Linked DNA regions of Homo sapiens. The protein of the gene in region 2 interacts with the protein of the main gene of each other region in a biochemical or structural test. Each region holds a gene or a part of one and is shown on either strand. Other genes may lie near its edges.

Evidence for each region.
Region 1: the proteins of IFI35 (region 2) and BATF form a complex in vitro, tested with the Homo sapiens proteins (one study listed by BioGRID).

The regions. Positions count from the first base shown.
Region 1 is NC_000014.9:75,539,435-75,543,185, forward strand, and holds part of BATF (basic leucine zipper transcriptional factor ATF-like), read left to right. Parts: intron 1-3,751. UniProt on the Homo sapiens protein: AP-1 family transcription factor that controls the differentiation of lineage-specific cells in the immune system: specifically mediates the differentiation of T-helper 17 cells (Th17), follicular T-helper cells (TfH), CD8(+) dendritic cells and class-switch recombination (CSR) in B-cells.
Region 2 is NC_000017.11:43,009,679-43,013,429, reverse strand, and holds part of IFI35 (interferon-induced 35 kDa protein), read right to left. Parts: intron 2,672-3,751; exon of another isoform or gene 2,493-2,671; intron 1,252-2,492; coding exon 1,153-1,251; intron 384-1,152; coding exon 236-383; intron 164-235; coding exon 57-163; coding exon of another isoform or gene 51-56; intron 1-50. UniProt on the Homo sapiens protein: Acts as a signaling pathway regulator involved in innate immune system response.

The DNA.
Region 1 (3,751 bases), on a different chromosome or scaffold from region 2:
TTTTTTTTTTTTTTTTTAGCAATTCTTTTCCCAGTCTTTCTAGAGGAAGGCAAGGCAGAAGGGGTTTGGGATGGACGCTGAATGAACCAAACTATAGTTTTTTTCACATTTGAGGGCAATGAAATCATAGTCTTGAAAACCAAGGACCAGGCGATAGCCTTTTCACCCTGTGACTAGACAGGTCCCTGAGGGCACGGCTGATGTGGCCAATCTTCTGTAAATGCAAAGGTGCTTATGGCCCTAGAGCTTCAGCTCTAAGACATGAAAGTGAAGGTTCCTCCAGAATCACACACGTGCATTATTCAGCGCAAAGATCTGTGGTTTGGTGATTCTTCTTCTCCTTTCATAAGGTGAGAGGCAGCAGTTGGGGTGAATTTCCCCAGGAATGGTGGGAGATGTGGGCCTAGATCCTCCCGCTGCTTGGGAAGAGTCGTACTTTTCAGTTGGAAGCCTGCTCCAGGAATGGCGGGCTCCACCCTCTGCATGTGACGTACAGGGGCTGGTAACTGATGGAGCCTGAACATATATCTGGGTGTGAGGGATAAGCTTCGAACGCCACTTAAGTGTAGGTGGGAGCCAAAAGGTCACCCTGCCAATACATGATTACATGTCCTGTTGAGGAGAAAATACACAGGGACTATTTTCACCCTTCTGGAAATTGTGATTAGAAAATGCAAGGAGAAGGCCAAGACACTAAACTGGAGCTGGTAGGGAGGAAGCCTCAGCCCTGCTCAGGGTGCCTGGACAGTCCCCACCAGGGCCCAGCTAGGAAATGCCAGCCTTGTCCTTGGTCTTCGTCCCTAATGGCTCCCGGCGGGTGAGGGAACTGCCTGGGGATTCCCCATCGTTGAAGCGCTCTGTGAGTGACCCCCTCCTAAGCCCCTCCAGTAGGGGATTTCCCAGAATGTTCCCACGCCCCCAGGAAGCCTCTTCCTTAGCCACCCCCAAGCTGCTTGCGGTTCATGGTAGAGGTAGGTGGCATCAAATGACCCCACAGGTGAGGGATTTGCCTGAGGTGGGAAAAGAGGGAAGATAAAATTGGAAAGCCACCGGGGCTGAGGAATTATCTCATAGGAGAGAACTGTCAAACAGTATAACGTTTAAACAGACTTTAAAGGCAAGAAAGGATGGAGGGCACAGACTCTGAAGCCAGAGTGCCTCAATTCAAGTACCGGTGCTGCAACTTCCAAGCTGCGTGATCTTGAGCCAGTGACTTAACTTCTCTGTTCCTCTGTTTTTCCTCTTCTGTAAAACGGAGATAATATTTTCTACCACACAAGTTTGTTGAAAATATCAAATGTAATGATAACCATAAAATACTTAAAAGAGTGATTGGCACACGGAAGTATTCAATAAATGTTAGTTATTGGCCAGGCATGGATGATTCACGCCTGAAATCCCAGAACTTTGGGAGGCTGAGGCAGGCGGATCACTTGCGGTCAGAAGTTCAAAACCAGCCTGGCCAACATGGTGAAACCCCGTCTCTACTAGAAATACAAAAAGTTAGCCAAGTGTATTGGCGGGCACCTGTAACCCCAGCTACCCAGAAGGCTGAGGTGGGGAGAATTGCTTGAACCAGGGAGGCAGAGGTTGCGGTGAGCTGAGATTGCACCACTGCACTCCCAGTCTGGGCAACAGAGAGAGACTCTGTCTCAAAAATTAAATAAACAAATAAATGATAGTTAAGTTAACCTAGGCTATTTTTTTAAAAAAATTTTGGTTTCTATCCACCTTTTTCGTATAAATTGAGCCAGGTTACACCTTAGACCTATTAGATCAGAATCAGGCATCAGGATTGCTAAAGCTCCCCAGGGGACCCCAGTGTGTGGATGAGGTTGAGAATCATTGTTTTGGTCCAGTCTTTCCATTTTAAAGTGAGGCAACTGGAGCTGAATAGGGAAATCGAGTCACTGAGGATCACCCAGCCAGGACCAGGGCCCAAGTTCCTATTCCCATTTACCGCTGATGGAGCTCACCGTGGTCATGAGTTCAGGACCTGGCTCTGTGTCTGGAGGAAGGTCTGGCCTCGAGTCAGCCCTTGTCCAGAATATCTGGCCAGGTGACCCCCTCTCCATGCAGCCCAGGAGGCAGATGGTCAGCTCTATGATTGGAAGAATGTGAGTGACTCAGGGATCTTGTGTTGTGTTGTGTTGTGTGTGGGTCACCAAAACCGAGACCCAGCTTTCTCCTGGGAGACAACAGGGTAGCCAAGGACTTATTTTTTTGTTTTGTTTTGTTTTGTTTTTTGAGACAGAGTCTTGCTGGGTTGCCCAGGCTGAACTACAATGGTAAAATCTTGGCTCACTGCAACTTCTGCCTCCCAGGTTCAAGTGATTCTCCTGCCTCAGCCTCCGGAGTTGCTGGGACTACAGGCATGCGCCACCACGCCCGGCTAATTTTTGTATTTTTTGTAGAGACAGGGCTTCACCATGCTGGCCAGGCTGGTCTTGAATTCCTGACCTCAAGTGATCTGCCCACCTCAGCCTCCCAAAGTGCTGGGATTACAGGCGTGAGCCACAGCACCTGGCCAACTTTCTAGTGTTCTCGGGAGACCTTTGCCCACTCAAGTCTCCAGTCTCTCGGGGGAAGCAGTCAGTGTGAGAGAAGGAACACAGGGCCCCGAGCCAAGCCCTGCTCTGCGCCTCCCTCGCGGGCAATGAGTCTTTGCATCAAACACTCAAAGTTTCTGAACTTCTGAGAAAACAAGTGCCTTGAGGTGAATCCTATAGCACAGCTGTCACCAGCCTGTGGTCATTTTGGAGGGTATGTGGCATAGGTTTGTCCCAGGGTCTCAGTTGTCCTCATCTGTAGAGTGGGGATAATAACAGCTGACCTTCCCTATCCCACACAGAGCGTTATTGTGAGGAGTCTGATGGACCTGGATGAATTCTGAATAGGAGAAAGATGGGTACATGGATGCCCAAATGCAGGCTCACCCCCACCCCTCTCAGTAGCAGAAGACATGCATATGGGAGAAGCTGCATTTCCTCCCAGCCTCACTGTGCTCTAGGTGTCCAGCCCTCATTGTTAGGGGATGTCACTGTTGTACCTCTGGATAAACAGCTGCTCTCATGCCACCTTTGCCAGTTGTCCCTTCAGCTGGGCGAGCCCTTTCCAGGGCATGACTGCCCCAAGGAGGGCCAGAGGGGACTGGGCAATAGCAGGGACATGGAGGGACGAGGCCCCAGATCAGCCACTTCCTCCTGCAAGGGAAGTCAAACCCTTTCTCTCATAAGTGTCAGGCTGGCTGCACGGTCCCTGGGCTGGCAGGGCAGGTTTCTTGGGGGCCCTAGCAGGAAGCACTCTTGCTTCCCAAGGTAAAGACAAGTTTCTTATCACTGGCGGTGGTTTTCTGGTTAGAGGCAGCAGGCAGCGGTTACAAACTTTGCCTAGAGCTCTGGGATCTGCAAGCCAGGGAGGGGGAGGCAGACGACAGAGCTAGAGTGAGCTCAGCAGAGCTTGCTTAGGGAGGAAGGACCCGCTGTCACTTCCCGAAAGCTGGGCCAGCCTCTAGGCGGGGAGAAGGTCAGAGTGGCCCTCCCTTCTGCCTCGGGGTTTGCCCAGGCTCTTCAGAGCACAGAATTTACAGTAAATGTTGTCACCAGTGGAAACTCTCAGAGGGGGCGAAGAAAAGGGCTAGAGGAAGGAGCCAGGACTCCCGGCCCCCAGTTCCCGTCTTACCAACACCCCCTAGTCTCATCGTGTTGCTTGATCTTACCTTTCGGTAAAGAGGGGATGCCCTCCTTCTGGG
Region 2 (3,751 bases):
CCATGCCCAGGTGCATGGCATGCTTTGCATGCCCCAGGATTCTGTCATACCATCACCTGGATGGTGGTGACCATGGGCAGCTCCAAGGGCTGGACCTGCACCCGCAGCCGGCACTCCTCCATGTTGATCGTGTGCTCCTTTTGTTGCAGCACCTGCTCAGCCACTGGGTGGTGGGAAACAGGGTCAGTACTGGGAACCCTCCCCACCTCCCTCCTGAGGCTCCCCATGAGCTTACCTTTGGGGTCATCAAAGGTGATCAGAGCAGAGCCCGCAAGCAGAGGGCAGTGGATCCGCAAATTGGAAACTAAAGACTTAGGCACTTCCGGGTCCTGCTGGGTGTGTCCTCGGAATACCAGGGGGATCTTGGGCACTGAAAATGGGACCTGGAAGTAGGGGAGGGGAGTAGGAGTGTTCCTCACTCCCACCTAGGAGGAAGGCATCTCCGATTCCATTCCATTGATGCTGAGTGCCGGAGATAAATACATTTACTGAAAGAAAAGCTGGATAAATGAGTGGATGAATGCAGGTCTGGTCCATACAGGGCAATTTACATACAACATCTTAATTTGTCCTGGGAGGTGGGTAGCTCTACTTTACAGATGTTCAAGTAACATAATGGAGGTCACACAGCAAGGAAGTAGCAGAGCCAGGAATAAAACCGAGAACTCCCCAGCTCTTTTTTGTGTTTCTTTGTTTTAAAGGGAGTCTTGCTCTGTCACCCAGCTGGAGTGTAGTGGCATGATCTTGGCTCACTGCAACCTCCACTTCCCAGGTTCAAGCAATTCGGACTCAGCCTCCCAAGTAGCTGGGATTACAGGCATGTGCCACCAAACCCAGCTAATTTTTGTATTTTTAGTAGAGACGGGGTTTCACCCTGTTGGCCAGGCTGGTCTCAAACTGACCTCAGGTGATCCACCAGCCTCGGCCTCCCAAAGTGCTGGGATTACAGGCGTGAGCCACTGCGCCCGGCCTAATTTTTGTATTTTTAGTAGAGATGGGATTTCACTGTGTTGGCCAGGCTGGTCTCAAACTCCTGACCTGAGGTGATCAGGCCCCCTTGGCCTACCAAAGTGCTGGGTTTACAGGTGTGAGCCACCGCACCCGGCCTCGCCAGCTCGTTTTTACCAAACAACACCAGATCTCCCACCTTACCTTGTCTTTGGGGGAGTCCCCGAGCTCCTTTCTCAGCTGCTGCAGGTCCCACAGCCTCATCTTGAGTCTGGCCTGCTCCTCCTGAAGGGCGTGGAGGGCCTGTTGGGGCAGAAGGAAACAACAAGACTTCTACCCGCCCTTCCAGAGAATCAACAAGCCCAGGGGAAGTGGGGCCTATTCTGGACGCTCCAAAAGCAGAGTTGATGCTAAGCTCAAGAACAACCCAACCCCTTTGTGCTGCCCTGGGCTGGTCTTGGCCCCCTCCACCCAGGGCTTGGCTGGCCTCATCTCAGCTGCTCTTGAAAGGGCAGGAGCCTTTGCAGCGTCCATGACTTGTTCGTGACCACAGATCTAGAGTTCAACAAACACTGATTAAGCTCCTGCTAGAAAGTGCTCGGCACTGACACAGGCAGTGGAAGATAAGGGTACGACCCTCAGGCCTGCCAAACAGTGCTCAAGAGTACATGATCACATGACTGACTGTGAAGGGCAGCCGGAATTTGGAAGAGGGACAATCCCAAAGGGGTTAACCCAATTAGGGACACCTCCAAGAGGAGGGGAGACTAGTTGCAAAATGTCATACAGTCATATTCTTAACTAACGTTTACTAAGTACTTACTATATGCCAGGCACTGTGCTAAGCCCGTCTGATGAATTATTTCATTCAATTCTTAGAACAACAGGGTATCTAAGATAGATATCCTGTGATCCTTATTTTATTGATTTATTTTTTTAATTTTTATTTATTTATTTATTTTTGAGACAGAGTCTTGCTCTGTCTCCCAGGCTGGGGTGCAGTGGCGCGATCTTGGCTCACTGCAGCCTCCACCTCCCAGGATCAAGTAATTCTCCTGCCTCAGCCTCCCAAGTAGCTGGGATTACAGGCACCCACCACCACACCTGGCTCATTTTTGTATTTTTAGTAGAAACAGGTTTTCACCATGTTGGCCAGGTTGGTCTCAAACTCCTGACCTCAGATGATCTGCCCGCCTCGGCCTCCTAAAGTGCTAGGATTACAGGTGTAAGCCACAATGCCTGGCCAATCCTTATTTTATAGATGAGGAAATTAAAGCTCAGAGAGGTTAAATGACTTGCCCAAAGTCATTTGGCCCTAGGCTGTCTGACTCCAGAGCCCACCCACTAACCTGTGCTTTACAGTGAAGAAATGAAGCCCAGAGTGGGGAGGTAGTTTACCCATCAATTCTAGCTTGTCCCTGGACTGTCACACTTTCCACTGTACACCAAGTAACCTTTTAGGCTGGGTGTGATCTGGAATGGGTCCAGAGAGAGAACTGACATCACAGGCAGGGAAGTGACACCAGGGATACCAATAAATGCACCTTTGTTTGTGGAATAGAGCAGAGTTCACCCTGTGGTTAGGAATCCTGATAAAGAAGTTCAGCTCAGAGAAGCATGAGATCTCTTGGAAAGATAGGACTCTGTTCTGACCATCTCTGTATTCCTTGTGTCCAGCAAGATCTCCGGCACAAAATATGTGTCCGGTAAAACTGTGTTGAATGAAGAAATGAAGTGAATGAATGACGGTAAAGGAGCACATTACAGAGGACACCAAAGAAATTCAGTGTGAGTTTGTTCTATTTTTAGCAGAAGAATACTAGAGCTTGACCAAATTATGCTGGTTTATGAATAGTGAAAAAGATCATTAGTTATTCATATTTCTGTAACTCAGAGAGTGCTAACACAGTGCCTTTAAGGGCCAGTTGGATGACATTAATGAGTTAATAGAGCCATGTAGGATAACAGAGAGTGGTGGGGACTCTGACGCACTGGGAAGAGCATGTCCTTTCTAAAGTAAACTGCTTCTAGCCATAACAAAGTTTCCCCCCACAGCAAATCTACCCATGTTTTTGTTTTGTTTTGTTTTTTGAGACAAAGTCTCAATGCCACCCAGGCTGGAGTGCAATTGCTCCATTATGGCTCACTGCAGCCTCGACCTCCTGGAATCAATCAATCCTCTCATCTCAGCCTCCTGAGTACAGGCGTGTGCCATCATGCCAGCTATTTTTTTTTTTTCTTCTTTTTGGGACGGAGTCTCACCCTGTCGCCCAGGCTGGAGTGCAGTGGCGCGATCTCTGCTCACTGCAAGCTTCGCCTCCCAGTTCACTTCATTCTCCTGCCTCAGCCTCCCGATTAGCTGGGACTACAGGTGCCCGCCACCACGCCTGGCTAATTTTTTTGTATTTTTAGTAGAGACGGGGTTTCACCGTGTTAGCCAGGATGGTCTCGATCTCCTGACTTCATGATCTGCCCGTCTTAGCCTCCCAAAGTGCTGGGATTACAGGTGTGAGACACCGCGCCCAGCCCTCTATTTTTTTTTCTTTTCTGAGACGGAGTCTCCCTCTGTTGCCTAGGCTGGAGTGCAGTGGCGCAATATCGGCTCGCTGCAAACTCCACCTCCCGGATTCAACAGATTCTCCTGCCTCAGCCTCCCAAGTAGCTGGGATTACAGGCACCTGCCACCACTCCTGGCTAATTTTTTTTATTTTTTATTTATTTATTTATTTTGAGACAGAGTCTCGCTCTGTCGCCAGGCTGGAATGCAGTGGCAGGATCTCGGCTCACTGCGACCTCTGACTCC